Linked DNA regions of Homo sapiens. The protein of the gene in region 1 purifies or fractionates together with the protein of each later gene. This does not show direct contact. Each region holds a gene or a part of one and is shown on either strand. Other genes may lie near its edges. The genes, in order: VDAC3, COX4I1, ACAD9, FAM8A1, CISD1, ACOT9 and BCAP31.

Region 1 (4,231 bases):
ATATTCACTTTGGAAAGCAGTGTTCAATGTATCAAAAACAATACCATTTACTGCTTGCCACAGCCCTACTCTAGAGCAACTTCTTTCCTCCTTTCCCCTTGCTTTTCCAGTCCCTAAATATTTTAACCAGTTCTGCCAGGCGCAGTGGCTCATGCCTGTAATCCCAGCATGTTACGAGGCCAAGGCGGGTGGATCCCTTGAGTCCAGGAGCTCAAGACCAGCCTGCGCAACATGGCAAAACCCCATCTCTACAAAAAATACAAAAAATTAGCCAGGCATGATGGCACGTGACTGTAGTCCCAGCCTGAGCCCAGGAGGCAGAGGTTGCAGTGAGCCGAGATCATGCCACTTCACCCTAGCCTGGGCAACGGAGTGAGACAGCTCAATACCAGTTTCAGATCTTTCCATTACTCTACTTCTCTTATTAATATCTCTTGTTCCATATACTCTCTTACCAAATGGTAATCCTAAATTCTCTCCTTTAAAAAAGAAGTATCTTTACTGAAAACAAATGCCTTTACTAAAAAGACCAAAAATATTGTATCTTAAACATTTTACTTTCATGACCTAAAAAAAGATTATCAGTTCTCTGCTATATGTTTCAAACTATCAGTTAATTTCAAGGTCCTTAAAAATCCCAAAATACTGCCCTCCTCCTTTTTAATAGGGTCAACACTTTACTACTTCCTTTTAAAAATGTTTTTTTTTATTGTGGTAAATACATGTAACATACATTTTACCATTTTAATAATGTTTTAAGTGTACAGTGAAGTGGCATTAAGTACAGTCACACTGCTGTGAAAACTTTAATGCTTTTGTGTGCAAAACTGCAAAACTTCTGCTTAGACAATTTCAATATTTGAAAGTACTACCCATTTTTCAAAATAAAGTAGAATGCTATAATTTATCCTTCTTTCCCCCTTTCTATCCTGTCTACCTTTAAGAGTGCTTTCTATCAAACAGTTACTATGAATGAGACTCTGTCTCAAAAAAATAAAATAAAATAAAATACATCCTTTGCCCTAGTTCAGTGCCCTTTAAGTCATATGACAATAAGCAATTAGAAATGGACCTCCTTCTGGGGAAAGCAGACAGCACCTGTCACTGACAATCTATGAACTGTCAAGAAAAAACATTCTGATTGGTCCTGTTTTAGGGAGCATTTCTGAAATCCTGCCAACAGTAATGAGATGCTGCCAACCCTGACCAGTCTTTTTCACTGCCTGCAACATGAATCCTCTCCTTAACAAATGCCCTGTCCCCTAACTCTAGTTCTACAGGCAGATGAGACAACTGGGAAGTTATGTTCTGTTTATCAAACCACACAGAATGGTTTCAAAGAGAGTATCATGCTGCACATTTAGGGGAAGGCCTTAGTAAAAAAAAAATGATAACATGTTAATCATGTTTAACTGTTCACATAATTATTTTAACGTGACAATCATTTTTCTTTTAGTAGATCCAACTATCTAGTGTTTTATTTTTTACATTTACTTTTCACAAACTTGACAAGTATAACAAATGCAAATCTTAATTTTGGTGCTAGAAAAACCTTATGCACAAAATTAAGGTAGAGGGGTAGTCTACATTTCTCCCTTGTCAGCATCAATTCTTAGTTTGAAGGTCTGTCACGAATCTAAAATGCCACAGGTACAAATCTCAGAAAAAAAGGCTAGAATTGTTCTAAGTTGAGTTCCAGGCTCACGATTCACAGTTCAGTTTGTGTCTAATTTCATAATTTGGTCAAACAAGTGCAAAACACATTTATAACATGCATATAACATGCATATAGCTCTACATTAAATGCTTAGTAAGCAACAAAACAAACAAAAATGTTACTGTTAAGTAGATAGCATATGAGAAAAATATCAAGACACAATCTAAGAAATTTGGAACAATGATTGAAATTTATCCTAAATCAATACCAGAAACCAAAAGCAGCCATAAAAACAAGCATACGAATAAGCTTTTTTTTCTTACCATCTGAATGAATATTACCACACAACAGCAGCATGAAAGGGAGATAAAATTTTAGTTGATAATTTTTGCAACACAAACCTAATGAGCAAATTCTGGAACCTACACAAAATGAGAATGATTCTTCTATTTTAACAGAACTATATACACAGCGTGCCCATCTTAGTAAGGGAGGTGCATATATATTTATTTACTCCAGAGAAACCCAGGGAAAGAATGATGGTCACAAACCATGATTATACACAGTATCATTAGAATTCCACATGTCTTTGTCCTTCTAATTATACATTCAGAAATAAAATTTTCATGGGTTTGAATGGATAAATACCAAAAACGATGCAGCCAATGAGGAGAAATCAGAGTAAGGTAAATTAAAACTTAACCTACTTGCTGAGATTTATTAAATAAAAGCAATTTTTTCTGAGACGGAGTCTTGCACTGTTGCCCAGGCTGGATGGAGTACAGTGGCACGATCTCTGCTCACTGCAACCTCTGCCTCCTGGGTTCATGCCATTCTCCTGCCTCAGCCTCCCAAGTAGCCAGGACTACAGGCACCCGTCATCAGGTCTGGCTAATTTTTTTGTATTTTTAGTAGAGACGGGGTTTCACCATATTAGCCAGGATGGTCTCAATCTCCTGACCTCGTGATCCGCCCGCCTTGGCCTCCCAAAGTGCTGGGATCACAGGCGTGAGCCACCGCACCTGGCCTTTTTTTTTTTTTTTTTAAGACAAAGTCTCACTCTGTCACCCAGGCTGGAGTGCAATGGCTTGGTCTCGGCTCACTGAAACCTCCACCTCCCAGGTTCAAGAGATTCTCCCGCCTCAGCCTCCCGAGTAGCTGGGACTATGTGCGTGCCACCACACCCAGCTAATTTTTGGTATATTTTTAGTAGAGACGGGGTTTCAGAATGTTGACCAGGCTGGTCTCGAACTCCTGACCTCATGACCCGCCCACCTCGGCCTCCCAAAGTGCTGGGATTACAGGTGTGAGCCGCTGCACCCAGCCAAAAGCTATTGTTAATGATACTTTGAAAATATGCCAACATAGCCTTTACTGTAGTCTTTACTTCCAATAAAAAAAACTTTATAAACATCAGTTAAAAACTGTAGAATAATGTACATGCATACGTGCAGAAATACATTTTATTTACATATTTTGTTTCGACTAATCATGAAGGGGCAGAGTAAAGTTAATTTGTTTTTGTAAAAGGGTAATAAAATTTCCATGAACCCATTATCATGGAAGTGAGGTTTTTGGTGCCCATATACATATTCATGAAAGTATAAACATATGACATGGGTCAAAAAATATATATTCTACATCTTCTGAGTGAAAGCTGTAGTATACTCTGAGAAACACAAAAGGTCTCTTCAAAAATTCAACTTGGTTGTTTATTTTAATTGGCTAAGAATGCTGTTTAAAATCTGAGAGGACAAAGCTGTGGGGAAGACAGCATGGTGCTGGTTCAAGTAACTAGACTGTCATGATTTTAAACAGATTCCTTTAAGTTAATTATGTTACATTCATTAAAAATATATTAGATACTCACCACTCCACTACAAGACTTGGTTTTCAGGTCTATCTTGACCATGCCAAAGCCTATACACACACACACACAAAAACACAGTAATGTACAAAATGTGACATTCACTAGTTTTTGCAACTCAGAAATTATGAAATAGCCTATAGTACCTTCCATATGAAAAATGCATAGTATTTTCATTGGGTGAGAGTTCCTCAAGAAACTGAATTATAACCAAATAAATGCAGTATAATTTTCAAGCACTCAAAATGAATAAAGATATACTTTTAAAATGTAAGTTAAAGAAAAAAATAAATGAAAGGAATATGCACTATTCCAAGAATCAAAATTGCTGAAAATAGTGTGCTGCTATATATATCGTTTAAAATATAGTTAACATTACTAGTTAATAAGAAAAAATCAAATATGTACAGCACATAAATTTAAGTTAAATTTTAAAACCTAAAAAATATTTATTTAGGATCAGAATATACATTACTCCAAAGAAGTCAAAAGTTATGTTGTCACTTTCATAAAAACAATGCCACTGTTTGGAGGGAGGAAAAGTTCTACCCCCTAATTTAATTGTCCTCAGGGCCAGACAAAGAGACATAAATGTTATATATATTATTCTACATTCCAGATAACATTAAATATGGACATGTATATGCATCTGTATATGTATATAATTGCTTTTAATGCTTGTAAGGGGTTCTGCCTCTAAAGAATGA
Region 2 (4,000 bases), on another chromosome or scaffold:
TTCTCTTTACACAAAGCTCAGGCACATTCAATCAAGGGGAGCCAGGCCTAAGATGCATCACACAGATCTGACCATGCAACTACCTTTCTACAAGTGTCTGAGCTCCGGGGTGCCCGAGTACCGACAGCCAAAGAAGCATTTACACTTTGCCAGATAAGGAATCGGCTCTGCGAAGGTGCGAAGAACCAAATCCTAGCGATTAATGTCCCAACAACGTGAACACTTCCTGCAACTCGAAATCCTCAAGGGAAACTCTGTCGAATCCCCACCAAGTGAACGATGACTTGTTTCTACAAAGGCTACTGATTTCAGGAAACTAACGTATAACTCGTCGCCTTAAAGTGCCTCTAAAAGCATCCACGACGGTTAAAGTCGCTGCTACTACGGGACGCTATTTATTCAGCGCCAAGACCCAAGCGCCATCGTGGATCACCCCATTCCTGGCCACGGCAACCCTAGGGAGCGGGTCCTAGGAGCCTGCTGGAGGGCGACCGCTGGGCCAGCTTCCTCTCTGCTGACTGAGGGGAGGCCAGGCTGCCTGCAAGGGGAAGGGGCCCTTTCCGCGCTTACCAGGGTGAGAGCCACCTCCAGCATGGGGGCGAGGGCCAGGGTGCCGTGGAAGAGGGGGATGCAGTCCACGAAGAGGGTGTGGTGGGCGCCGGGGCCGCCCAGGGGGAGGTGCTCCTTACGCGGCTTCTGCTTCTCGGCCACCAGGAGCCCGTTGACGGCGCAGTGCGGGTACTTGGCGCCGTGCAGCACCATCTTGCAGTAGGCCTGGGTGGTCAGTTTCACCCCGGGCATGCTGACCCGGGAGGGCCCCGGAGGCCCCTGGGCGCGCGGCTGAGGCCTGGACCCGCTGCCTGGCCGCGCGGCGCCTCAGCCGAGAAGCGGGACGAGGCGGCGGCGATTGATGGCGCGGCCGCGGGCTGGCGGGGGACCCTTCAGGCCCGGCCCCGTTTGGGCCTCGGCTCCTGGAAAAGCGACTCGCGCCTCTGGGAAGCCGCAGCCCCAGACTCCAGTCGCGCTTCTCGCCCGGCGCCGCCGGAAAGCAGCCTCTCCAACGCCTGCCGGAAAGCAGCCCGGCCCGGCATTTTACGACGTTCGCAGCGCTACCCTTTTCCGCTCCACGGTGACCTCCGTGCGGCCGGGTGCGGGCGGAGTCTTCCTCGATCCCGTGGTGCTCCGCGGCGCGGCCTTGCTCTCTTCCGGTCGCGGGACACCGGGTGTAGAGGGCGGTCGCGGCGGGCAGTGGCGGCAGGTGAGACAGGAGGTGGCCGGTGCGGCGCCGCCAGGCCGGGCCGGGTCGGGGGGCCGGGAGCCATCAAGTCTGCACGTCCGCAGCCTGGCCGCTCGGCTTCAGCAGGAAGCACCGAATGGGCCTCGGAGCCAGGTGACATTGAGGCCGGCCCGTGGGGACTCCGGGCTCGGTGGCTCCAGGCTCGGGGGGCCGCCCCGAAGTGCCCGGTCCATCTTACCCGGTCTCGCAGCGGCTGCGGACCGGCCTCGGGCACTGACCTTGGAGCGCCCGCTGGCCGAGGGCTCAGGCTGCGGGGAGGCGGGCCCGCGCTCTGTGCCTGCAGCCTCCGCCCTTGCTCCTTCAAAAGGTCCCTGTGCAACCCCTCCCGGGTTTTGCGGGGCTCCCGGGCGGCGCTCGGCTTTCCAGCCTGGAAGGCGCCTATTGTTTGCTCACGCAAGGGCTAGGCCCAAGGAGAGAAGCTAGACGCGGGCGTTCAGCCCTGACGTCATGCTTGTTTATTCTGCCCCAAGGAGGGTATTTCCCCACATCACTCTCACCAGTCCTCCGAAGGGTCGATTTAAAGGGGGCCGTGTAAGGTTGATGGGCCTGAATAGAGGAGGGCCCGGGTGAGGGGGGGTCTCATAGGTTTTCCGCTCTCCTCAGGGATTGGAAATTGATCGGGGCTGTGTTGGCAGCCTTCTCCAATTTCCCCTTCTAGTCTATGTACAGGCGGTATTAGGTTTTAAACACTCAGTTGAATGTGATGCGTGCCACGGTCCCTGTGAGCTGTCACCTCCCCCCACCGCTCCCTGAAGAATGGAGTCTGTCACGGCAGCACAGTGCTTTAATGATCTCTAGCTTTTTCAGAGTCACCTTGTTAGCATTTTTTCTTCTTGCCTTTTTTTGTTTGAGACGGACTCTTGCTCTGGTTGCCCAGGCTGGGGTGCAGTGGTGCGGTCTCGGCTCACTGCAGTCTCTACCTCCCGGGTTCAAGCGATTCTTCTACCTCAGCCTCCCAAGTAGCGGGGATTACGGGCGCCCACTACCATGCCCGGCTAATTTTTGTATTGTTAGTAGAGACGGGATTTCACCATGTTGGCCAGGCTGGTCTTGAACCCCTGACCTCAGGTGATCTGTCCGCCTCGGCCTCCCAAAGTGCTGGAATTACCGGCGTGAGCCACCGCGCCCGGCCTCTCCTTGTTTTTTTAAAAAGACCAATGTTCTGTTAATTACCTGAAGCGCGTATATATTATGGCAGTTGATTTATAATGAAGCTCCTTAAAAGCATGCCAATTACTAAGAAAAACCTCATCCTAGGTCATTTTGTGAATTCAGAGACAGTGATAAAGAATGGATCATTTGCGTTGGGGAGAAGCAAACAAAAAAATTCCAAAATGCTCTGGGGCAAAAAGAAGACTAATTCCTTGCTGTTTGTCCTTATTCATAGAGAAGGTGTACATTTTTATCTTTCAGAATGTTGGCTACCAGGGTATTTAGCCTAGTTGGCAAGCGAGCAATTTCCACCTCTGTGTGTGTACGAGCTCATGGTAAGTGTGACTTTTCTTACTTTTAAATAGGCTGAACTAATTTCATTTTGCTCCTGCTGTGTATAAAGCCCTGTGCTGGAGTTTTAAAGACCTTAATTCGGCTCTTGAGGGTCTTTAGGGGAGATATAAATGTTCTCACAGGGCTTGGTTCTAGATTAAGAAGTGTTTATAAGTCAAATTGAATCTCTTCTGGATCTTTGGTTATACTGATACTTCCCCACTTACCCTTCCCTTCCGTTCCACTTTTTTAAGCTTCGAGATCTACCCCTTTCAAAAGATCTTCTGCACCATAACTGACTGACCTTAATGACCTCCCTCCCCACCTTGCCCCCACAACTCCCAACCATTTGCATCACCTCTGTTTACATTATAGAGGCAATGGAAACGAAAGAGCCTGGACTTCCTAGCCTGAGCTGGGTTTTCATCTCATTTCTATCAAGGACTAGCTACTGAAGCTCAGGAATCTCTTTGCTCACCTGAAGTATATGGACAGAGCTTAGTTCTGTGTCTGGCATACAGCACATTTACTTTTGCATGTATCTGGCGTCTATCTACTTTGTACCAGACACTGTTAGGCACCGAGAAGAAAAAGAATATGAAATACACACACTTTCCAGGAGGCTGTTTGCAATCTGAAGAGGGACGGATGGGTGAAGACAGTGTTTTATTAAGAGATGGCTCCTGGGTAGAAGCATTTAGCCCGATGTGGGTTTCAGGGAAGGCTTCTGGAGGAAACTCTCCAGGGTCTTTTCATTGCCTTAGTAGAGTCTACACCCTGCCTGGTTAGAGCTGGTCTTGCCTGCCTTTCCGATCTTATTACTGACTGTTGTACTCAAAACCCAAAAACTACCATCAGAACCACCCATCCCCACTTGCTCACTGCCCCAGCCCCCTGGCCTTACTCCATTCCTCCCGTAGAGCCCCGAGTTGTGGGTGGTCGCTCCTGTCTAATCATTCACCCTCGATACAAATGTGCTTTTAGAACGGCCTCTCCTGACCATCCTTTCTCAGGAAGCTCCCTGTCACCTCACCTTGCTGTGCTTTTCCTTATAACACTGGATGCCTCATGAATGCATGTCTATTTGAGTATTGCTGTCTCAGCCTCTTAGAGTGTAAGCCTTTTGAGGCCAGGGAGCCTGCCTGTCTTACTCATTGCCGTATCTCCAGCACATAGGAGGCAGATGAAGACGAACTGCAGGCTCTTAGACAAGTCTTC
Region 3 (4,231 bases), on another chromosome or scaffold:
AATGTTTCACAAACACCTCATGCTCTCCTTTCTCCCCACAGCTGACATTAGTCTGTGTCTGTTTTGTTTAGGGGATCATCTTGGCTGGCACTGAGGAGCAGAAAGCCAAATACTTGCCTAAACTGGCGTCCGGGGAGCACATTGCAGCCTTCTGCCTCACGGAGCCAGCCAGGTCTGTCTCTGCACAAAACGTTATCCCTCAGCAGCTGTGATGTTGCCCAAGATTCACTGGGGCAAGGGGCTGTTGGTTTTGTTGAGTAGCTGACTTTTCCTTCTTTCCAAAATCTTGCAAAGAATCAACTCAGCAACTGTTCTTGCCATTCCTCTTATCTTGACCTTATTTCTCTGTCCCAGTGAGACTTGCAAGTGAGATACCACGCTTGACAGCACTTATTAAATAAATTTTTGTGGTTTACAACACACCTTGACATACAATATAGTAATAACGTTCCGGCTTCAAAGCACCTTTCAGAATATATAGCGTGGGTGGTACTGCTCCCACTTACACATTAGGAGCTGAGGTTCAGTGAGGCTGTGTGATCTGCTGGATGGAGCAGGGCTGCGGCAGCACTCGGGACTCTGATGATAAGTCCATCACCTGGACCATCCTCCATCCTGCTTCACTTTGCATGAGAACCTGGGAACAGTCATCCTTCCTGGGGTGCCCAGAACTCATCCTCACAGGACCTCAGATGAGCCCATTGCAAGCACCCATTTCCATGTTTAAACCTAAGCCCAAGTTGTTTTCACTGCCGCTTTTTTACGTGATGTATTGAAGCAGAGGTCGGCTAAATCCAGCCTCCTGCCTGTTTTTTATAAATAAGTTTTGTTTGTTTGTTTTTGAGACAGGGTCTTGCTGCGTCACCCAGGCTGGAGTGCAGTGGCTCAATCTCATCTCACTGCAACCTCCGCCTTCAAGCGATTCTTCTGCCTCAGCCTCCCGAGTAGCTGGGACTACAGGCATGCCCCACCACACCCAGCTAATTTTTGTATTTTTAGTAGAGACGGGGTTTCACCATGTTGGCCAGATCTCAATCTCTTGACCTCGTGAACCACCTGCCTCAGCCTCATGTTCTATTAATAGCAGCAGAGTTGAGGAGGTGAGACAGACATCCTGCAGCTTGGAAAGCTGAATATGTTATCTGACCCTTCATTTTAAAAGTTTGCTGACCTCTTACAAGTACTAAAACCTCCATTTTCAGGCCCTCAAAAGCATTCATATTTATTCCCAGTATTCTCCCTTGACCACATCTTTCTGCATCTGCAGTGGGAGCGATGCAGCCTCAATCCGGAGCAGAGCCACACTAAGTGAAGACAAGAAGCACTACATCCTCAATGGCTCCAAGGTAGGGTTCCTTCCCCATGGCCACATTAGGGTCTCAGTCACAACCTTCACTGCCACTGAGTGAGCACTCTCCACACACCAGGGATTGTACCTGCTGCTGTAGCACCGACTACCTTCTTGAGCTGCTTTTATGTGTTTGTTTTTAATTTTTTTTAGTTTTTTTTATTTGCGATGGAGTCTCTGTCACCCAGGCTGGAGTGCAGTGGTGTAATCTCAGCTCACTGAAACTTCTGCCTCCCAGGTTTCCAATGATTCTCCTGCCTTAGCCTCCTGGGTAGCTGGGATTAGAGGTGCGTGTCACCACTCCTGGCTAATTTTTGTATTTTCAGTAGAGATGGAGTTTCACCATGTTGTCCAGTCAGGTCTTGAACTCCTGACCTCAAGTGATCTGCCCACCTCGGCCTCCCAAAGTGCTGAGTTTACAGGCAATGAGCCACTGTGCCCGGCTTGTAAACCCAAAAAATCTTTAAATTTTTTGTTACACAAAGTTTCAGACATATTCTGTGTGCCTGGCTGGCCCTAACTCCGGCAGTCACCTGCTTATGGCCACTGTGCCTCTTCCAGCAGCATCGCCACCTCCAGATCGCATGGTAACAATCTCAGCATGCCTCTCTAAAAGACAGGAGTTTTTTTTGTTTGTTTTTGTTTTTTAATAAACACAAAGCCGTAATACCCTTATCACATTTTAAAAATTGATAATTTCTCTTTTCTTTTGAGACAGGGTCCCGCTCTGTCACCCAGGCTGGAGTGCAGTGGCACGATCTTGGCTCACTGCAGCCTCAACTTCCTGGGCTCAGGTGATTCTCCTACCTCAACCTCCCAAGCAGCTGGGAGTACAGGCACACAGCTAACTCTTTGTATTTTTTTTTTGGTAGAGATGGGTTTTCACCGTGTTGCCCAGGTTGGTCTCAAACTCCGGGGCTCAAGTGGTCTGCCCACCTCGGCCTCCCAAAGTGCTGGGATTACAGGCGTGAGCCACTGTGCCCAGCTAATAATTTCTTACTTCTATCAGCATTCAAATATCCCTGATTGCCTCATACCTTTTTTTGGTTTAACTGTTTGCTTGAATTAAGATCCACACAAGTCCCATCTGTTGCTGTTTGTTAAGGAGTCTGTTTCTGCCTCTGTCTCCCTCTGTTTCCTTTCCTCCTCCTCACCACCCTCCCGCCTTTTTTCATTTCTTTGTAGAATTAACAAATAAATGTTGTGTGTATTTACATCTACAACATGATGTTTTTATATATGTATACCTTAAGAAATGATTAAACCCTTTCTTTCTTGAAGAAATGCAGTTGTCTGGCGGTGGAGCCTGAGCTGTCTGACAACTTTGGGTGTTCTTTCCCCCGCCCCCGCCTCCACCTGGCCATCCATGTCCCTTGGGAAAATCCTTGCTCTGGGGAAAGTGGGCTGAGCCCTGTCCTCTATTCACTCATGCTTGGTTGGCTTCTGCAGAGCCAAGGACCCTGCATGTCTGGCCTGAGGTCTGACTGGCAGCTGGAGCTTGATGGACAAAGACAGAGCTGAGGTGGGTCACATAGGGGTTTGGTTTTCTCCAAAGTCCATCTTTCTGTCCTCAGGTCTGGATTACTAATGGAGGACTGGCCAATATTTTTACTGTGTTTGCAAAGACTGAGGTCGTTGATTCTGATGGATCAGTGAAAGACAAAATCACAGCATTCATAGTAGAAAGAGACTTTGGTGGAGTCACTAATGGGAAACCCGAAGATAAATTAGGCATTCGGGGCTCCAACAGTAAGTAGCTCCTGTGCGCGCGTGCGCGTGTGTGTGTGTAAGGGGGAGACTGGCCTTTGACGGTGTGTGTGTGTGTGTGTGTGTGTGTGTGTGTGTGTGTGTAAGGGGGAGACTGGCCCTTGACTCTGTCCAAATAGCAAGATAAAATGAGATTTAAACACTTTCAGTTTTTGTTAAGCATTTTAAAAAGATCAAATTAAGAATGCCACTTGGGCTTTGTCTTTGTTCCTGCAGCTGAGTGCTGCTCACTTGAAGGCCTGCTGGTCATCCCCTGCTGTAGCTGCCCTAGCAGACACACCACCTTAGAGCTCAGCTTACAGTCCCCAGCCTTTAGTTGTCTCAGTCTGCAGTGCCTGGCAGCCTGCTTCAGGCTGTGAGTTGGGTTCAGGTCCATCTGGGTTCAGGTCCATCTGGAGGCTTGTTCTTAGAGCAGATCATAAGCACCTAAGGGGCCAAGCCAAGCCATATAAGTACTATTTTTGCCGTGGGAGACATAGTCTCCCTCTGTCACCCAGCCTGGAATGCAGTGCTGTGATCTCAGCTCACTGCAACCTCTGCCTCCTGGGTTCGAGTGATTCTCCTGTCTCAGCCTCCCAAGTAATTGGGACTACAGGCGTGCACCACCACACCTGGCTAATTTTTGTATTTTTTGTAGAGATGGGGTTTCAACATGTTGCCCAGACTTGTCTTGAACTCCTGAGCTCAGGCAGTCTACCTGCCTCAGCCTCCCAAAGTGCTAGGATTACACGTGTGAGTTACCATACCTGGCCACTTTTTTTTGGTTTGTTTTTTTTGAGACGGAGTCTCGCTCTGTCGCCCAGGCTGGAGTGCAGTGGCACTATCTTGGCTCACTGCAAGCTCCGCCTCCCGGGTTCACGCCATTCTCCTGCCTCAGCCTCCCGAATAGCTGGGACTACAGCTGCCTGCCACCACGTCCGGCTAATTTTTTCTATTTTTTAGTGGAGATGGGGTTTCACCATGTTAGCCAGGATGGCCTCGATCTCCTGACCTCGTGATCCGCTCACCTCGGCCTCCCAAAGTGCGTGAGCCACCGCACCCGGCCTTTTTTTTTTTTTTTTTAAATAGAGATGAGGTCTTGCTATGTTGTCCTGGCTGGTCTCGAACTCCTGGGTT
Region 4 (4,231 bases), on another chromosome or scaffold:
GGAGTGCAGTGGTGCAATCTCAGCTCACTGCAAGCTCTGCCTCCCGGGTTCATGCCATTCTCCTGCCTCAGCCTCCTGAGTAGCTGGGACTACAGGGCCCGCCACCACGCCCGGCTAATTTTTTGTATTTTTAGTAGAGACGGGGTTTCACCATGTTAGCCAGGATGGTCTCGATCTCCTGACCTCGTGATCTGCCCACCTCAGCCTCACAAAGTGCTGGGATTACAGGCGTGAGCCACTGTGCCCGGCTATAACTACCAAATTTTAAGAAAAATTTGAAGATGGCAAAACCAAGGTTTCTAGAATCACTTGTTTATATTTCTTGATGTAACAATCCAGCTCTGAATCATTCTGGCAAAAATTGCAGCCAATACCTTGTTTGGCTCAACTGACTACCAGCCACTGACCTCCACAGTTTCCATTATCACTGGTTGTACCTTCCCCCAGCGCTAGATGCCAACAGCTAACCTTGAATACTGGCAGTATTACAAGCTCTCACCTAACAGCAGGAGAAGGATGCACGAATGCATAGCTGTCAAAACTCTGCTGCCTATTCAAGATGGAATAATGACAGGCATGGCCAAATGGAGACTCAAGGCAGACTAGTACCTGACCTAACATCCACAGGTCCAAAGAATAATAAAGCTGATTGTGGAGCACTAATACACCATCAACACCCAAATCATCCTCTCGTATTGTGACTTATAATTCATAAAATGATCATCTTGAGGCAGGGCATGGTGGCTCACGTCTGTAATCCCAACACTTTGAGAGGCGGAGGCGGGTGGATCATGAGGTCAGGAGATCAAGACCATCCTGGTTAACACGGTGAAACCCCGTCCCTACTAAAAATACAAAAAATTAGCCGGGCGTGGTGGCGGGCACCTGTAGTCCCACCTACTCGGGAGGCTGAGGCAGGAGAATGGCGTGAACCTGGGAGGCGGAGCCTGCAGTGAGCCGAGACTGTGCCACTGCACTCCAGCCTGGGCAACAGAGTGAGACTCCGTCTCACAAAAAAAAAAAAAAAAAAATCATCTTGAAAATGTGTACTGTAAAAGAGGTCTACAATCATGTAACACAACTGAAATAAATATTCAAACTTTGTTTTAACTTAATAAATATAAGCCTATCTACTATGAAGAAAAAAACCCCAATATTCTAAAACACATTATTTTCATTAAGTATGTAGTAGATTAAGCTAAGAAAAGGACTTACGTTGTAATGCTAACATTTGAGGAAGGAATCACTAAAACCCGACTTGGTGCAATAAGCACTGATGTATCACATGTCACAACTCGAAGCCCCAGCAGGAACTTCCCTGGGGTAGCTCCACCTGCTCCCCAAATGCAAATTATCTAAGGAAAGAAGGATGATTTAAAAATTACTGGCTCAACTATACCAATTTTAAAGATAAACTTTTCCCACCATATTATTTCATGTTTTAAATTTTTCAAGTTGAAAGAATTGCATAGAATACTCAAAAGTTAACCATTTAACTTTATGCATTTCTGTAGGTCTCTAACATGTCCAATACCACAAGATGTCTGTCTCCTGTAATATTTCTCTATGACTACTATACTTTCTAGTAAGCTGCTTCTGCAGAAAACTACATTGCAATTTACAAGTATATTTTTGGACCACAATCTATAAGTGAAATTTTATTTGAGTTTCTAAGACTGAAAAATATTACAAAGAAATTGTAAAATGTCTCTCTTCCAAAAGTTTTTACTTAATGATTAGTTAAAATTTGGGAAAAAAAACAGAAAAGTAGACATGTGGAAAAGACATGAATAATTATAAATTTCGATTACTTTTTCGTCTTGGGCTGATAATCTAAAATTAGATTGTTGGCTAGGTGCAGTGGCTCATGCCTGTAATCCCAGCACTTTGGGAGGCCAAGGTGGGCAGATCACTGAGGCCAGGAGTTTGAGACCAGCCTGGCCTACATGGCAAAACCCTGTCTCTACTAAAAATACAAAAATTAGCCAGGTGTGGTGGTATGCACCTGTAGTCCCACCTACTCAGGAGGCTGAGACAGGAGAATCACTTGAACTCAGGAGGCAGAGGTTGCAGTGAGCCAAGATCACACCACTGCACTCCAGCCTGGGTGACAGAGCGAGACTCTGTCTCAAAAAAATAAATGTAAAAACATAAAATTAGATTGTTAAATATTAATTCTTGCTGAAGTCAGTAGCTTACCTCATAGAAACAAACTAATAATCTGTATATAAGTGCCACAACCATCATTTTCTGCAAGTCTTCCATTGATGTGTCTTCATCTATTTCTTCTATTATATAATGCATAGCAAACTTAGAGATATCCCTACACAAAATAATAGTTTGGGGTTATAAATAATTAGTTACCAGAACAGTAGCACTGACTTTTTTTTCATTAGTGCAAGTCATACATTTTAATTGAAATTCTAAACTAATCTTTAGATTCCCAACCATCTAGTATCATAAAGCATTCATTAGTTTATTCAACAAATAAGCAGCATTATCATGAGCAGACACTGTACTAGCACGGGGGAAATAAGGGTGAATGAATTTACACGGTCCCTGCTTTCGTGGAGGGTCTAACCTAGCAAAGAAAACAGAACAATAAATAAATAGCAATAATAAAGTGGGATGAGTGCTGTGATGGGGAACCTAGGATACTATGGAAACATACACCAGATACACTTAACCTTGTGAAGGTTTCCCAGAAAAGACAGTTAGATGAGGCTCTGAAGGATGAAGAGAAGTTAGCCAGACTAAGAAGAGGAAATAACGTTCCAGAAAGAGGGAACAGCAGGAGAGAATGTCTTGGAGAAAGAGAGAATATGATAGAAGCTGTAAGCAGTTTGGTGTGGCTCATATACTAAATGTGAGAGGTGGCAGTGATTAAGAAATAAAGGCAGGGTGTGGTGGTATGCACCTGCAGTCCCACCTACTTGGGAGGTTGAGACAGCCTCCTGAGTATAAACCACATGATGAAATTCAGACTTTATCCTGCTGGTAAAGAGAAACCATTGAAGGGGCTGAGCATGGTGGCTCACGCATGTAATCCCAGCACTTTGGGAGGCTGAGGTGGGAGGATCGCCTGAGCCTAGGATTTTGAAAGCAACCTGGGCAACACAGACCCCATCTCTAAAAAAACAATAAACATTTTAAAAAGAGAAACCATTGAAGGGTTTTAAGGTAGGAAAGGAACAGAACCAGGATTTATGATCACTTTGGTTTTATATCAGAGACTGGATTGAGATAAAACAGGAGACTGAGTTACCACTAGAAGGCTTCTGCTATAATCCAAGCAAGAGACGACAGTAATCGGAGTAGGGAGAAGCAATGATGATAAAAAATGGGCCAGGTGTGGTGGCTCATGCTTGTAATCTCAGCACTTTGGGAAGCTAAGGCAGGAGGATCATTTGAGCCCAGGAGTTTGAGACCAGCCTGGGCAACATAGGGAGACCCCATCTCTACAAAAAACAATTTTTTTTTTTAATTAGCTAGGCATGGTGGAGCATGCCTGTGGTCCCAGCTCCTTGTGAGGCTGAGGTGGGAGTGTCACTTGGGCACAGGAGATCAAGGCTGCAGTGAGCCATAATTGTACTACTGCACTCCAGCCTGGGTGACAGAGCAAGACTCTGTCTCAAAAAAAGAAAAATGATCTGGCAGTGAGGAGGTCTGGGGTTGAAAGCTATTCAGAAAATTGAACATAAAGGAGTTGGTATTTCACTGGATGTGGAGTGGAGTGAGAGGGAGGGACAGGGAGGAATCACAGTAACAGGTTTCTGGCAAGGACCCTGAAATTTGACTGCACAGGCTTGTATCTTGACTCTGTCACTTACTACCTTTGTAACATTTTAGGTTCTGTGCTCAACTTTTCATAAACCCAAATTTCAAACTCTATAAAATGGTGGTATTAATCTCTACACCTCATCTTGGTATTAAGATTAAATAAGAATCCACATAAAGAAGTGAGCAAGCTCAATACATGGCATATAGAAAGTACTCAGGAAGTGGTAACTGCTATTATGATTATTGTTAATCTGGAAGGATTACTCAAATAAACGTCTCACTTTGAAGTTCACTTGGGACTTGCCCCACAGTATGTGCAATCCCATTTGGAAATGCCATCTAGTTGATTATTAATTCACCTACCAAAAGCTCTTTATACCTTTGTCTTTAGAGACTCCACAAGATAGCAAGAGGGAACAGGATAGTGAGAGGTAAATTAGTTCCTGGCCTA
Region 5 (4,656 bases), on another chromosome or scaffold:
ATAAGGCTAAGAATCCTCTTACTTTACTCTTCTAAATAGGCTTCTTCAAAGCAACAGTGTACCTTAGACTAAACAGTGAAACTCTAGATTCTAGAGTGTAGATACATTCAAAACACCAAGATTAAGGCAAAGATGCTAGCTCTTGTCATTTGACATGAAATAGAAATAAAAGATACAAATATAGAGAAACAAAAAAATTACTGATAATTATTCCTTCTAAGTGTAAAATCCTGAAGAGTTAAGTGAAATATTATTAAATTCTTATTTTTTCATTTTACAATAGAGGATATACTTGTTAAAAATGATTTTATATAGCAAGAATGTTCAGATATGAAAATAAATTATAATAGTGATTAAAAATATGACAGAAATAATCTTACCAGAATATACATGAGATCTGAGGATGAAAACTACAAAAGAAATTAAAACTTGGCAAAAAACATTCTCAAGCTTATCTGGAGGAATAAAGTGATAAAGTTTAATAAAGTTAACAGGCTGGGCGCGGTGGCTCACACCTGTAATCCCAGCACTTTGGGAGGCCGAGGCAGGCGGATCACGAGGTCAGGAGATCGAGACCATCCTGGCTAACACGGTGAAACCCCGTCTCTACTAAAAATACAAAAAATTAGCCGGGCGTAGTGGCGGGCGCCTGTAGTCCCAGCTACTCAGGAGTCTGAGGCAGGAGAATGGCGTGAACCCAGGAGGCGGAGCTTGCAGTGAGTCGAGATCGCGCCACTGCATTCCAGCCTGGGCGACAGAGCAAGACTCCGTTTCAAAAAAAAAAAAAAAAGTAAAAAAAAGAAACAATGAAGGAAAACTAGCCCTACAAAACACTGAAATGTTTAAAATGCAAATATCCCAGCGTAGTAGGCCGATCAACGTAACATAGAACCTATAAATAGGTGCTTTTACATGTAGAATTTATTTTGATAAAGTTACGAATAAAGGTAATAATGTGGGAAGCAATAGCCTCCAGTAATGCTGAAGCAACAGGATCTTAGAACAGCGTTTGCAAAGTGTGCTCTACAGAAAACTATGATAATAGAAATCAAAATTTAAAGTGTCCATAGTCCAGTCACCTTGAGAAACTCTGGGATAAAATTGTGTTTTTTATAGCAAAATTAAAATAATGTGTGCTGTGATTCAAATGGGCTATATGATATGTTTTTTTAACACAGAATGAAACCAAATCAGAGTGTCTTGCAGGATTCAGGTTCTTTGGACCACACTCTGCAAAACACTATGTTAGAAATTTAGTTTTGTCCCTCTCCCTCCCACTGGACACCAAAACAGCAGTTATATCTAAAATGTGAATTCATGAAAATGAATGGAAATTTGTATTTCTCACATCTCTAGAAGAAAGCTGTCTCCATGAATGATGTTAAAAAGGGAGATATTGACATATTTGTATGAAAGTGGAGAAATTGAGAATATGAAAAAATAAGCAAAATGAAAAGATTTGGGAAAGACTGCTGCAAAAATAACAGAGGAATAATATGCAGTTGATTTATTTTTTATTTTTTATTTTTATGTTTTTTGAGACCAAGGCTGGAGTGCAGTGGCACAATCTCGGCTCACCGCAACTTCCCCTCCCAGGTTCAAGCCTCAGCCTCCTGAGTAGCTGGGATTATGCGCACTCGCCACCATGCCTGGCTAATTTTTGTATTTTTAGTAGAGACAGGGTTTCACCATGTTGGCCAGGCTGGTCTTGAACTCTTGACCTCAAATGATCCACCCACCTCAACCTCCCAAAGTGTTGAGATTACAGGCATGAGCCATCGCGCCTGGCCGCAAATTGATTTTAAATAAATGAACTTAAACTCTTAGAAGTAAATAGGCAATGGACATGTTCACTAGAAAGGAATGTAACTAATATATAAACATAAGAAAGGCCTTCAACACTCATCACAATCACACTGAAATTCAATAAATGATGTGTGTATTATGCACAAGTCAATTTCTTCATCTTACTAAGTAGCATATGTAGTTTACATATGCTGTTTAAGAAAGCCTATATAAGATAGCCAAGAAAATCTTTATGTTATATGAATTAAGCATCACCTTCCACTCTGCCGAGCATAATACTGATTTTGAGATTAGATGTTTCACATTCATTCTTTCTCTTCCTAGTTCCCATTCTGTGATGGGGCTCACACAAAACATAACGAAGAGACTGGAGACAATGTGGGCCCTCTGATCATCAAGAAAAAAGAAACTTAAATGGACACTTTTGATGCTGCAAATCAGCTTGTCGTGAAGTTACCTGATTGTTTAATTAGAATGACTACCACCTCTGTCTGATTCACCTTCGCTGGATTCTAAATGTGGTATATTGCAAACTGCAGCTTTCACATTTATGGCATTTGTCTTGTTGAAACATCGTGGTGCACATTTGTTTAAACAAAAAAAAAAAAAAAAAGGAAAAACCAACCTGCATGGCCTGTGGGTTATTTTGGTCTTGTAAGGATCCATTTCTTTAAAATACTGACATATAGAGTTGTACCTTATATAGAATATAGTTGTATCTTGAAGTCAACATATTAAATTATTCTCAAAATTATGTATTTGCAGATTGTACTTGTAAGTTTCAAAGAAAAATTACCATCTTTTCATATTGACCTGGAAACTAAATAGGATGTGATTCAGCTACATTAATTTCTTAATACAATCTAGGAAAGACCTGTTGTAGCCTTGATTTTCTTGACATTGGTAATGACACTGAGAAAATATGGCTTCTGTTTTTCACCGTTTTCAATCAAAATGATTGATAAATGTTATTCTGTTTAATTTCATAAGTCAGGTCAATAATAAAGGGGTGGTAACTTCCTCATATTTATCTTCACAGATATTTAATGAAGATGGATCCATTAAAGGAGCCAATAGTGAAAATTTAGTTAAAGGTGATATTAGATTTAAATTAGTCATGAAGAATGTCTTAAAATCTAATGTTCCAGAATTCTGGCCCAAGGAATGGTAAGCACTTGAACTGAGGATTTTGAAGGAATTGGAACATATAATGTCAAGTCTTTTGATCACTAAGCCACATATCCTGACAGAAATAGTAGTCACAAGATTAGATCAAAGGCGTGGGAAGATTTTTTTTTTTCCCACTCTAGCTAATCAAGCACATGGCTTTTAAATTGTATGATCTTTTTCTTAAAAGCAAAAATTTGAAGACAAGTGTTTGTTTATGTAATATTCTTCAAAGACTCCGAGCAGAAACATTGCATTCATTGTTGATTCAGAAAAAAGAAAATATAAAAACTGAAAATAATTAGCAATAAAAGATTTAAGACAAATAGTTCATAAATATTTTTAAAGAGATTAGGTTTTTGAATTTCATAGGTTAGAAGGAAAATCATGGCAAAATTTACAGAAAATTGGGCAAACAATTGAAATTGATAAAGCAGGTAAACATCATCATTTATTTTAGTATACATGAATTCTCAGTAGTAGTCAATCACAAATTTCTACTTGCTAAAATCCATTTACCTTGACAGGAATCAAACCTGACAGCAGCATATCCTATGTAATATATGATCATGGCTATTTTTAAATATGTAGTTTTGTGTATTACTGTAGATAAAAGTTGGTAACAAAATTGTACAGTGGTTTTAAGAAGCCCATGTAACTAACTTGGACATGTCTTTAAGTCACATATTCATCATAAAATCTAAAATCCTACAAACTGATTCTATTAGATTCTTAGGGTAAATTTTTTCTTTGCCCACCTCCTTCTTTTTAAGATAAGTATGCATGTCAGCAAAACAGAGCAATCATGCTTTTAAAGATGAACTGTTTTAAAGAAAAATAAATGCATCAACTCCCAGTGTTTCTGATAAAGGGACATCCTTCTAACTTAACAGACTATTCTTTATCTTGAATTTGAAATTATATTGTTAGTCATGCATTTTTGTAATGTCAGGGGGAACCTGGTACCAGTTCTCAAAACTATAGGATTATATGAGTGTGTGTATACATATGGCAAAATTATAAATGACCACCTTACTGTGAAATATAGATCTTGAGCATTTTGAAAGGCCAAAATAATTAGGTAAATGTATTTTCAAGGTCATGTTAAAATGTTTACATGCTTTTGAACTAGCATTCATTTATGATTAAAACCCTTTTCAGGTTATTTGACCTAAAAACCAAAGTGAGTGTGGTTAGGTTAATATGAGATTTTTTTACACAAAAATCATTGTGTGCAATTACTGTTCTAGCTAAGCACCTTAATGCTTCTAAGTGCTTTTCATTTCGTTGAGGCAAGACAAGTGGGGCTTTCATCTTTTTTTTCTCTATGTCATTTATATTCTAGTTATTTCTGAAGAGTGTACTAGGTTGAGAAGTTTCTAATGTGAAAAATCTTGTTCATCTGTTCATGCAACAGACATTTATTAGGCATCTGTAGACCATATAATTGAGACAGAGAAACATTTTGGAGAATTAGAAGCTCACACTATTTATGGCATAGGTTATATAATTATGATAATTTATGATTTACTTTCTTGACAAAAACAGCTACAACCATGTATACCTACTATTTCTCCTACAAAGTAGGTGAGATTTTTTGATTTTACATTAGTTAGGGAGGTTTTTGATTTGGTTTTGCTTTAAGATAGGCATTGACTATAGCTTCTGATTAGCAACACACAG
Region 6 (4,231 bases), on another chromosome or scaffold:
GAATAATCTTTCTTACTAGTAACTTTAAAAAAAGAAAGTCTTAAACTTACAGAAAAGTTGCAAATACAGTATAAAGAATTTTTCTGTGGCCAGGCGCGGTGGCTCACGCCTATAATCCCAGCACTTTGGGAGGCTGAGGCAGGCAGATCACAAGGTCAGGAGATCGAGACCATCCTGGCTAACATGGTGAAACCCCATCTCTACTAAAAATACAAAAAATTAGCCAGGCGTGGTGGCATACGCCTGTAGTCCCAGCTATTCAGGAGGCTGAGGCAGGAGAATCACTTGAACCTGGGAGGTGGAGGTTGCATTGAGCCGAGATCGCGCCACTGCACTCCAGCCTGGGCGACAGAGTGAGACTCCGTCTCAAAAATAAAAAAGAAAAAAATTTTTTGTCCCTGAATTATGTGAGAATAAGTGGCTGACATGATGCCACATCACCCCCAAATATTTGAATATGTCTTTCCTACAAACAAGGACATTCTTCTACATAACTACAAAACAACCATAAAAAATCAGGAAATTAACACTGATGTGTCATACTGTCTAATCCTCAGGTCCCATTCAACTTTTGCCAGTGGTCCTTCATAGCAGAAGGATCCAGTTCTGAATCATATGTTGATTTAATTGTCATGTCAGGACTAGTTCCTTAATCTTTCTTTGACTTTCGTGACTTTGACATGGTTCTTTTGTGTATTGTCCCTCAATTTGGGTCTGTGTGGTGCTTCCTCATGATTAGCTTTGGGTTATGCATCTCTGGCAGGAATGTCACAGAAGGGATGCTCTGTTCTTATTGTATCCTATCAAGTGGTGCATGGTTTTGATTTGTCTCATTACTGATGATATCAGCTTTGCTTACTGGATGACGATGATGTCTGCCACTGTTCTTCACTGTAAAGTTACTCTTTTCCCCTTTGTAATTAATAAGTACCTTATGTGGGGGGGGGTGGCAGGTAACTTTGAGACCTTCATCAGACTTTCAATTCATTATTTTTAAATCAGTATGGACTCAGGAATTCCTATGTTACTGAATGGACTATAATATGTTACTATCATCTATTTGATGTTCACATGATCCCAGGAGTGTCCCAGTCCCTTCAGGCTAGCTTCTGTGTGGTTTTCTTTGATGTGTCCCCATTATTCTTTGAGCACTTTCTCACTTTCTGGCACAATAAAATATTCTAGGCTCATCTTATGCTTTTCCCTGCCCCAGTCCTAGAATCACCCACATCTCCAAGGAGCCCTTTTTTGAAATGGAGAATGATATTTTGAAGTGGAGGATGATATTTTGAAATGGAGATATGTGCGTTGGGAGTGGTCATTATTCCTGGGTATCACTGCTCCCATACCCTCTTAGTGGAGGAGCTGGGAAATATATGTGCATATACGTACATATATGTTATTTCTAAATCTTTGTACAGATGTATGTATGAAAACCATGGGATCGCACTGATAGCTCCAATTCCAGTTCAGCCACCACGGGGTTCATTCTCATTTCCTTCCTTTCCATATTTGTAATTCCCTTCTCCAACTGGCTCCATTCTCCTTAATATATTGACTTATTTAATCAGTTCCGCTGTATGTGACCAATTTCCTATGGCTGCCACCCCTCATGCATCATGGATGCTCCCCTCACCTTACCTGGGCTCTGGTACCCCACACCAGGTCCCCCTCTGCAGGCTCACCCTCTTCATTGTGCTCAAGCTGTGACATGCTCTGCCATCACTCTTGCAGCCTCTCTGCAAGGATGTCCTCCTCACCGTGCTTGGATGCCAGCACCCTACTCTAGGTTACCTTACTTGCTCCCACCTAATGATATTTGGGCTGAATGGTTGGGAAAGGGTCTGAAAAAGGGTTCTAATATATTGTTTAAAAAACTATTTTTTTATAGAGATGGGGTCTCCCTGTGTTGCCCAGGTTTTTCGTGAACTCCTGGGCTCAAAGGATCTTCCTGCCTCAGCCTCCTAAAGTTCTGATTACAGGTGTGAGCCGCCGTGCCTGGCCTTTTTTTTTTTTTTTGAGACAGAGTCTCACTCTTGTTGCCCGGCCTGGAGTAGAGTGGTCCGATCTTGGCTCATTGCATCTTCTGCCTCTGGGTTCAGGCGATTCTCCTGCCTCAGCCTCCTGAACAGCTGGGATTACAGGCACCCGCCATCACATCTGGCTAATTTTTGTATTTTTAGTAGAGACGGGGTTTCACCATGTTGGCCAGTCTGGTCTCAAACTCCTGACCTCAGGTGATCTGCCTGCCTCGGCCTCCCAAAGTGCTGGGATTACAGGTGTGAGCCACCATGCCAGGCCCTAACTTTTAAAATATAGATACAAGCTTGTTGTTAAGCTTACGCCTAGCAACTACTTTTCTCTAGATTAAATAAACCCAGTTAAAAATTCTTGGCTGGGCACAGTGGCTCACACCTGTAATCCTTGCACTTTGGGAGATCGAGGCAGGAGGATCGCTTGAGGCCAAGACTTTGAGACCAGCCTGGGAAACATAGTGAGTCCCCATCTCTACAAAACCCAAAAAATTAGCTGGGCATGGTGGCATGCACTAGTAGTTCCAGCTACTCAGAAGACTGAGGTGGGAGGATTGCTTCAGCCCAGGAAGTCGAGGCTGCAGTGAGCTGTGGTGACACCACTGCACTACAGCCTGATTGACTTTGGTTTGCTTAGGTGTCCTTATATATACAAACTCCCCTGCCACTACCCTCTTTCTTGCTCATTAACTTCTGTTGATGGCCAGTCCCTTTAACCTGTTCACTTGATTCTATTCCTTCTATTTCTTCAAGGAACTGCCTTATCACTTGGCTTTCTCCCTCATTTCCTGAGCCTTTTCTCAACTTCACTTTTCCCTCAAGTTATAAACATATTCAAGGTTCTTCCATCTTAAAATGAAAAATAGGCCGGGCAGGGTGGCTTACGCCTGTAATCCCAGTAGTTTGGGAGGCCGAGGCGGGTGGATCACTTGAGGCCAGGAGTTCGAGACCAGCCTGGGCAATATGGTGAAACCCCGTCTCTACTAAAACTACAAAAAGTAGCCGGGCGTGGTGGTGCGTGCCTGTAATCCCAGCTACTCGGGAGGCTGAGGCACGAGAATCGCTTGAGCCTGGGAGGCAGAGGTTGCAGTGAGCTGAGATAGACTCCAGCCTGGACAACAGAGCGAGACTCTGTCTCAAAAACACAAAAATTAGCCGGGTGTAGTGGCATGTGCCTGTAGTCCCAACTACTCAGGAGGTTGAGGCAGGAGAATGGCTTGAACCCGGGAGGTGGAGGCTGCAGTGAGCTGAGATCGCACCACTGCATTCCAGCCTGGGTGACAGAGTGAGGCTCTGAGTCAAAAAAAAAAAAAAAGATAAGTAAAAAATCCTCTTTCCTTATAACACCTCACACTTTCTTCCTTACTTCATAGCTCACTTTCTGAAAAGAACCTAGAAAATCACCTGCTCTCATTGCCTCTTTATGCTAACTTCCTGTTAATTAAACATTTCCCGGTCGGCTGTGTTCCGGCTTCTGCTCCTCCACGCCATTGAATCTGCTCTTGCCAAGCTCGCCATTGGCCCCTTTACTGCACAGTTGAATGGATACTTTTCAGGGCTGACCTGACCCCTTTGTGGCTTCTTATATCGTCCAGCCCATCCTTGGGCTTTGGTGACATTTCCTTCTGCTTCTCTGGCTGCTCTTTTGTAGTCCCCTTTGTAGGTTCCTCTTTTTCTGTTGATCCCTTAAATGTAGGTTATCCCCAGGGTTTTGTCTTCTGCCCTTTCAAAAACTGATTATTTTTTGAATTTATTTTATTTTATTTTGTTTATTTATTTTTTTTGAGCTGTAGTTTCGCTCTTGTTGCCCAGGCTGGAGTGCAATGGCGCTATCTCAGCTCACTGCATCCTCCATCTCCCGGGTTCAAGGGATTCTCCTGCCTCAGCCTCCCATGTAGCTGGGATAACAGGCACACACCACCACGCCCGGCTAATTTTTTGTATCTTTAGTAGAGACGGGGTTTCACCATGTTGGCCGGGCTGGTCTCGAACTTCTGACCTCAGGTGATCCACTCGCCTCGGCCTCCCAAAGTGCTGGGATTACAGACGTGAGCCACTGCGCCCGGCCTTTTGAATTTTATAATTTGTTCATATTAATTAAATTTTAAGGCATTTTAAAATTTAACAATAAAATTGTTAAATCTTTTAAAATTATTTATTTAGTTTTTGAGACAGGGTCTCACTCTGTCACCCAGGCT
Region 7 (4,231 bases), on another chromosome or scaffold:
GGCCCTGAAGAATGTGGCTCCCACAGTGTAACACCAGGACGCCCCATGGTGGGTCGGGAAGCTGGGCTCACCTTCTTGAGCTGGTCATTCTCCTCCATGTACTTCTTGGCCGCCTCACTAGCACTCTCCGCCTGCTTTTTAAAGGCTTCATTGGAGGCCAGCAGCGTGGCCTGCTGCGAAATGAGAGTCACCAGGCGTCTAAGCAGGCTGCAATTATTTACAAAAAGAAGGGAGAAGTGAGAAAAAGAGCATGAAGGGCTGGCAGGAGCACCTCCTGGTTGCTCCCACTCCACACCTAGCTCCAGCCTGGACCTGCCCTCTTGCCAAGGCAGCCGAGTGAGAAGCCGCCAACCTGGTGCTGGCAGCGTGAGGGAAAAGGTGGGGCCCAGGAGCCGTCCTCTGCCGCTGTGCCCAACGGCCACCCTCAGCTCTCAGAGGGGCTGGAAGCAGGAGCCTGGGGGGCTGGGAAGAGCCTCGCTACAGCATGAGGTCCCAGAACGCGGCACTTTCCGGGTCGGGGCCTAGACGTGCCAGACAAGCCACAGCACCACCTTCCTCCCTGCGAGGCTGGGCTTGCCTTGGTAAGGTAACGAGAGAAGCTAATCAATCCAAGCACTTCCAACATGCCAGGCCGCATCCTCACATCTACCTGATGAGGAAGTTACTATCACTGCCCCAGCTTATAGAAGAGGAAACTGAAGTTCAGCAGCGTAAATCAATGTACCCAAGGCCAAAAACCAGAAATGGACATGGCTGGAATTCCAAATTATGTCTGCCTGACTCCAGAACCTGAGCTCGGAACCACTCTGCTCTCTAAACTAACAGGGAACAGCTCCCAGGTCCCAACGTAAGATAGAACTCTCTTCTCTGGCCAGCCTCCTTCCCAACCCATCATGCAGGCTGCGCTGGAACACATCCGTTATGTAACAGCACCCCGAATGAGGTCTTCTTGGGCTGGAGGGTGTAGAGGAATCAGGACACAGGCGCAGGCTGCCTCTCTGAAGCAGCCAGGAGAGACAGGCAAACAGGTGGCAGCTGGAGGCAGATGCTAGTCCCCAAACAGAGATTGGAATGGCCACTTCATTTCCCTTGGTTCACCCTTGCCCCGAGATGTTAGCTGGCAGGAAGAGAGGAGGGAAGGACTCGTTCAAACAGTCAAAACAAGGCAGGGGTTCCTTTCTCACACACCTCAGAAGGCAAGGGTCACACAGGGCCTGGGGGAAGGAAGAGACAAATCTGCTTAGTCCAGAGTGCTTCAACAACAGCTTACTCAGAAGAGTCGAAGTGGCCTCCTGCCCCAGCCAGGCCTTCACACTTCACAGCCTCTGCTCATGGCCAGGGGCAGCCCGGAAGGGCTGGAGAAAGTAAAGAGCAGACAAGGTGAGCTACCTCCCTGGCCCAAGCCATGGCTCTCCAGGGCCTCGGCAGAGCCCCTTTCCAGATGTACTCAGGACAGAAAGTACCCACCCGGGCCAGGAGACACCCCTGAGGTTCCTGGTTTGGGGAGAGGCTCCCAGGGGCCCCTGGCAGCACCAGGAGAGCCAGGCCGTTGATTCCTGGCAGAGAAGGAGAGTTTCCAGTGACATGTGCTTTCTAAAATTAGCGGCCCAGGACCTCGTGGCCTAGGGCTCAGGTTTCCCTGCCTCAGCCCCCAGCTGCCCACCAGCCTGCCCCGCACTGGGCTACAGCCTGAAGGTGGAGGAAGCTACTGAGCGCCCTAGGAGCCAGAGAGAAACAATGCATCTGACTCACATCGGCATGGCCAGAAGTCAATGGAGAGGCCTAGAAAGAAAGGCAAGTCTGACTAAGACCCAGGCCCCCGGCAAGGAGCTGCCCAGCCCCAGAGCGGATCCCAGTGATGTAGAAAGAGGAAGAGGACCGCTCCTCCCAGCTGGAATTGAGGGGTGGGGGTCATGCCACCTGGTGGTAGAGAGAGGACCAAGCAAGACTGAAGGCTATACTCCCCGCCACCAGGCCAGGCAAGCGGCTGCTGGTGAGTGCCCATGGCTGTCACCCCAGTACCCAGGGAGATAGCTAACACAAATGCTTCCGCGGCAGTGCAGCAGAGGCCCAGCTCTTTTCGGACCGTCCCAGGCCCTTCCCGGCTATTGAGAACCAGGGCTTCCAAGATAGGCCAGGGCATACACAAAGTCCAGCGCAAGATCCACGCTGTGTGTGTCCGAAAGCCTGGCCCTGCTCAGCCCCAGCCCAGGCCTTCAGTTCCCAGCCTTGAGACAGTCTGGGGCTCCCCTCTGCCAGGCCCCGGTTCCCCTTCCTCTTGCCAACCCTCACAGGCGCTCCCCACCCCCACAGCACCCCGGGCATACTCCTCCCACTGCACCCCCAGCCCGATAGTTCTTTTTCACACCTTCTAGGTCCTCTCTCTTCCTGCTGGATGACCCGGGATCATTCTCCCCCCAGGAACCTCACCTTCAACTGCCTCCTTCCTGGAGTCACCCTGCCCAAGCCCCTGGTCTTTTCCCTCCCATATATTCCTCAACCTAGGCTGGCCAAGGCCTGCCCTTCCAAGCCAGCAGCAGGGCCACCAGTGGCCTCCTAACCGCCCAGGCCGGAGGTCACCCTGAACTCCTTGCTCTGCTGCTAAGTTACCCTCCTGAGGTCCCCTCGCAACACCCTCCTCCCACTGTTATTCTGCTCCCTCTGGGGTCTGCACTCTTCAGCTGACACCCTATACCTTCCTCCCAGCCACTCTTATCCCCGAAAGGGTTTTCTCTGTGGCCCAGACTCATACCTAACCTCCTGCTAAACATTGGCTCCTGGATGTCCCCAGAGACATTCTAGACTCAGCTTGTCCAAAACGGGCCTTCCCTTGTCCTGCCTGACCTGACCACCTCGTGTAGCCCCTGCTGTAGTGGTGGGCAGGCAAACCGCCTTGGACTCAGCCCTCTTGGCCCCCAGCCCAAGCCACAACCCAGCACTTTCCATGTCAACTGCAAACATGCCCACCATCATCCCCACTGCTGGCGCCTCCTCCCTATCTGCTGCCATACGGCTTTCCCATCCACCTCCCAGAGCAAGGCAAATCCGACCATGTCAGCCCTCTGCTTAAGCCACCTGCTGCCAGCACGCATGCCCTCAGTGAGCTCTCCTCCTTCACTAACCACGTGGCCCCCTGCTCTAGTAACACCTAACCCCTCACCATTCCTGGAACACGCCTGGCTCTGTGTGGCAGTTCTCCAGGCCGGAATGTCCTCTCGACCCAGCTCAATCCTCACCTCCCCCCAGAAACCCTTTTGGATCTCCCACCCCATCAGAGGGACGCCTTCTGGGGGCTCCTGCAGCAGCCCCCCAGGCACCCGCATGTAACTACCTCATTCTCTGTTCTCTGCGTGGCTGCCATCCGTTTATATGGCTGCCCTACCAGGCTATGAAGGTCTTTAGGCTGGGCACTGTGCCTTCATCTCTGCACTCCCATACCTGGCACACTGAAAAGGGGTCTTCCGCCCACTCCAGCAAGTATAGCTAAAAAAAAAAAGGGGGGGAGGGCGCGGGGCTGGGCTTCCAGATGACTGGATCCCACTCCCAGGAGAGGAAATGCTCCCTGACAGGTGAGGGGACAGATTTGAGGCTGCACGTAAGGCTGGACAGAATCTCCCTGGGCCTAGACTGCACCTGTGTTCACCTGGGAGCCTGGCACCAAGAGGGGCAGAGGCAGACACAGAGCTGCTCAGTCTAGCAACAGAGGAGACAGAAGACAGGAGTGGGAAGGCGCCGTCTCAGACCCGTTCTGATGGGCAAGCCAGGCTCATGGCTGCAGGGGGAAAAAACATTCACTGCCGCGACCTGAAGGCACAACCCAGAGCTCCAGCCTCTGCATCCTCACACCCTCAACCCCCACCCAGGGCCCAAGCAATGCAGACCAGGTCCTCTCTGATCACTGGCATTTTTCAGCCTGGGAGCCAGCCTTCTAGAACATTTTCCCGCTCCCTCACACTGGGTCACTCAGGCACGTTAACGTGCGCTTGTCTGTTCCCTTGTAGCTTCCCAGGCCCCCAGGACAGGGCACGAACATGGCCTTTAGCTTCTGCCTCTGCTGGATCTCCCAAGTAGTCTTACCCGAATCACTGTTCTTAGCTATTCATTTCCAGAAAACAGGAAAGAACCTAAGAGCCAAAGGCAACTCCTACAGATACAGGGTGGTCACCAATAGAATGGCCTGGGGTCCAAAAAAAGGCCAGTGAACGAAACTTAACAGAATCCAGATGTGGCC

The links.
Region 2: the proteins of VDAC3 (region 1) and COX4I1 fractionate together in Homo sapiens (co-fractionation; 2 studies listed by BioGRID). This does not show direct contact.
Region 3: the proteins of VDAC3 (region 1) and ACAD9 fractionate together in Homo sapiens (co-fractionation; one large-scale study listed by IntAct). This does not show direct contact.
Region 4: the proteins of VDAC3 (region 1) and FAM8A1 purify together in Homo sapiens (affinity purification with mass spectrometry; 2 studies listed by BioGRID and IntAct, with this or other methods). This does not show direct contact.
Region 5: the proteins of VDAC3 (region 1) and CISD1 fractionate together in Homo sapiens (co-fractionation; one large-scale study listed by BioGRID). This does not show direct contact.
Region 6: the proteins of VDAC3 (region 1) and ACOT9 fractionate together in Homo sapiens (co-fractionation; one large-scale study listed by BioGRID). This does not show direct contact.
Region 7: the proteins of VDAC3 (region 1) and BCAP31 fractionate together in Homo sapiens (co-fractionation; one large-scale study listed by BioGRID). This does not show direct contact.

Annotation. Positions count from the first base shown.
Region 1 is NC_000008.11:42,394,430-42,398,660, reverse strand, and holds part of VDAC3 (non-selective voltage-gated ion channel VDAC3), read right to left. Parts: intron 3,578-4,231; coding exon 3,528-3,577; intron 1,984-3,527; coding exon of another isoform or gene 1,981-1,983; intron 1-1,980. UniProt on the Homo sapiens protein: Non-selective voltage-gated ion channel that mediates the transport of anions and cations through the mitochondrion outer membrane and plasma membrane.
Region 2 is NC_000016.10:85,798,495-85,802,494, forward strand, and holds the start of COX4I1 (cytochrome c oxidase subunit 4 isoform 1, mitochondrial isoform 1 precursor), read left to right. Parts: upstream 1-1,200; 5' UTR 1,201-1,258; exon of another isoform or gene 1,259-1,373; coding exon of another isoform or gene 1,374-1,390; intron 1,391-1,782; exon of another isoform or gene 1,783-1,828; intron 1,829-2,689; exon of another isoform or gene 2,690-2,710; coding exon of another isoform or gene 2,711-2,711; coding exon 2,712-2,784; intron 2,785-4,000. Other genes in the region: EMC8 (ER membrane protein complex subunit 8), read right to left, coding at 571-801. UniProt on the Homo sapiens protein: Component of the cytochrome c oxidase, the last enzyme in the mitochondrial electron transport chain which drives oxidative phosphorylation.
Region 3 is NC_000003.12:128,896,365-128,900,595, forward strand, and holds part of ACAD9 (complex I assembly factor ACAD9, mitochondrial), read left to right. Parts: intron 1-71; coding exon 72-172; intron 173-1,267; coding exon 1,268-1,346; intron 1,347-2,922; coding exon 2,923-3,097; intron 3,098-4,231. UniProt on the Homo sapiens protein: As part of the MCIA complex, primarily participates in the assembly of the mitochondrial complex I and therefore plays a role in oxidative phosphorylation.
Region 4 is NC_000006.12:17,602,998-17,607,228, reverse strand, and holds part of FAM8A1 (protein FAM8A1), read right to left. Parts: intron 2,324-4,231; coding exon 2,200-2,323; intron 1,356-2,199; coding exon 1,216-1,355; intron 1-1,215. UniProt on the Homo sapiens protein: Plays a role in the assembly of the HRD1 complex, a complex involved in the ubiquitin-proteasome-dependent process of ER-associated degradation (ERAD).
Region 5 is NC_000010.11:58,285,431-58,290,086, forward strand, and holds the end of CISD1 (CDGSH iron-sulfur domain-containing protein 1), read left to right. Parts: intron 1-2,130; coding exon 2,131-2,220; 3' UTR 2,221-4,156; downstream 4,157-4,656.
Region 6 is NC_000023.11:23,725,787-23,730,017, reverse strand, and holds part of ACOT9 (acyl-coenzyme A thioesterase 9, mitochondrial isoform a precursor), read left to right. Parts: intron 1-4,231. UniProt on the Homo sapiens protein: Mitochondrial acyl-CoA thioesterase. Catalyzes the hydrolysis of acyl-CoAs into free fatty acids and coenzyme A (CoA), regulating their respective intracellular levels. Regulates both mitochondrial lipid and amino acid metabolism.
Region 7 is NC_000023.11:153,703,888-153,708,118, forward strand, and holds part of BCAP31 (B-cell receptor-associated protein 31), read right to left. Parts: intron 208-4,231; coding exon 72-207; intron 1-71. UniProt on the Homo sapiens protein: Functions as a chaperone protein. Is one of the most abundant endoplasmic reticulum (ER) proteins.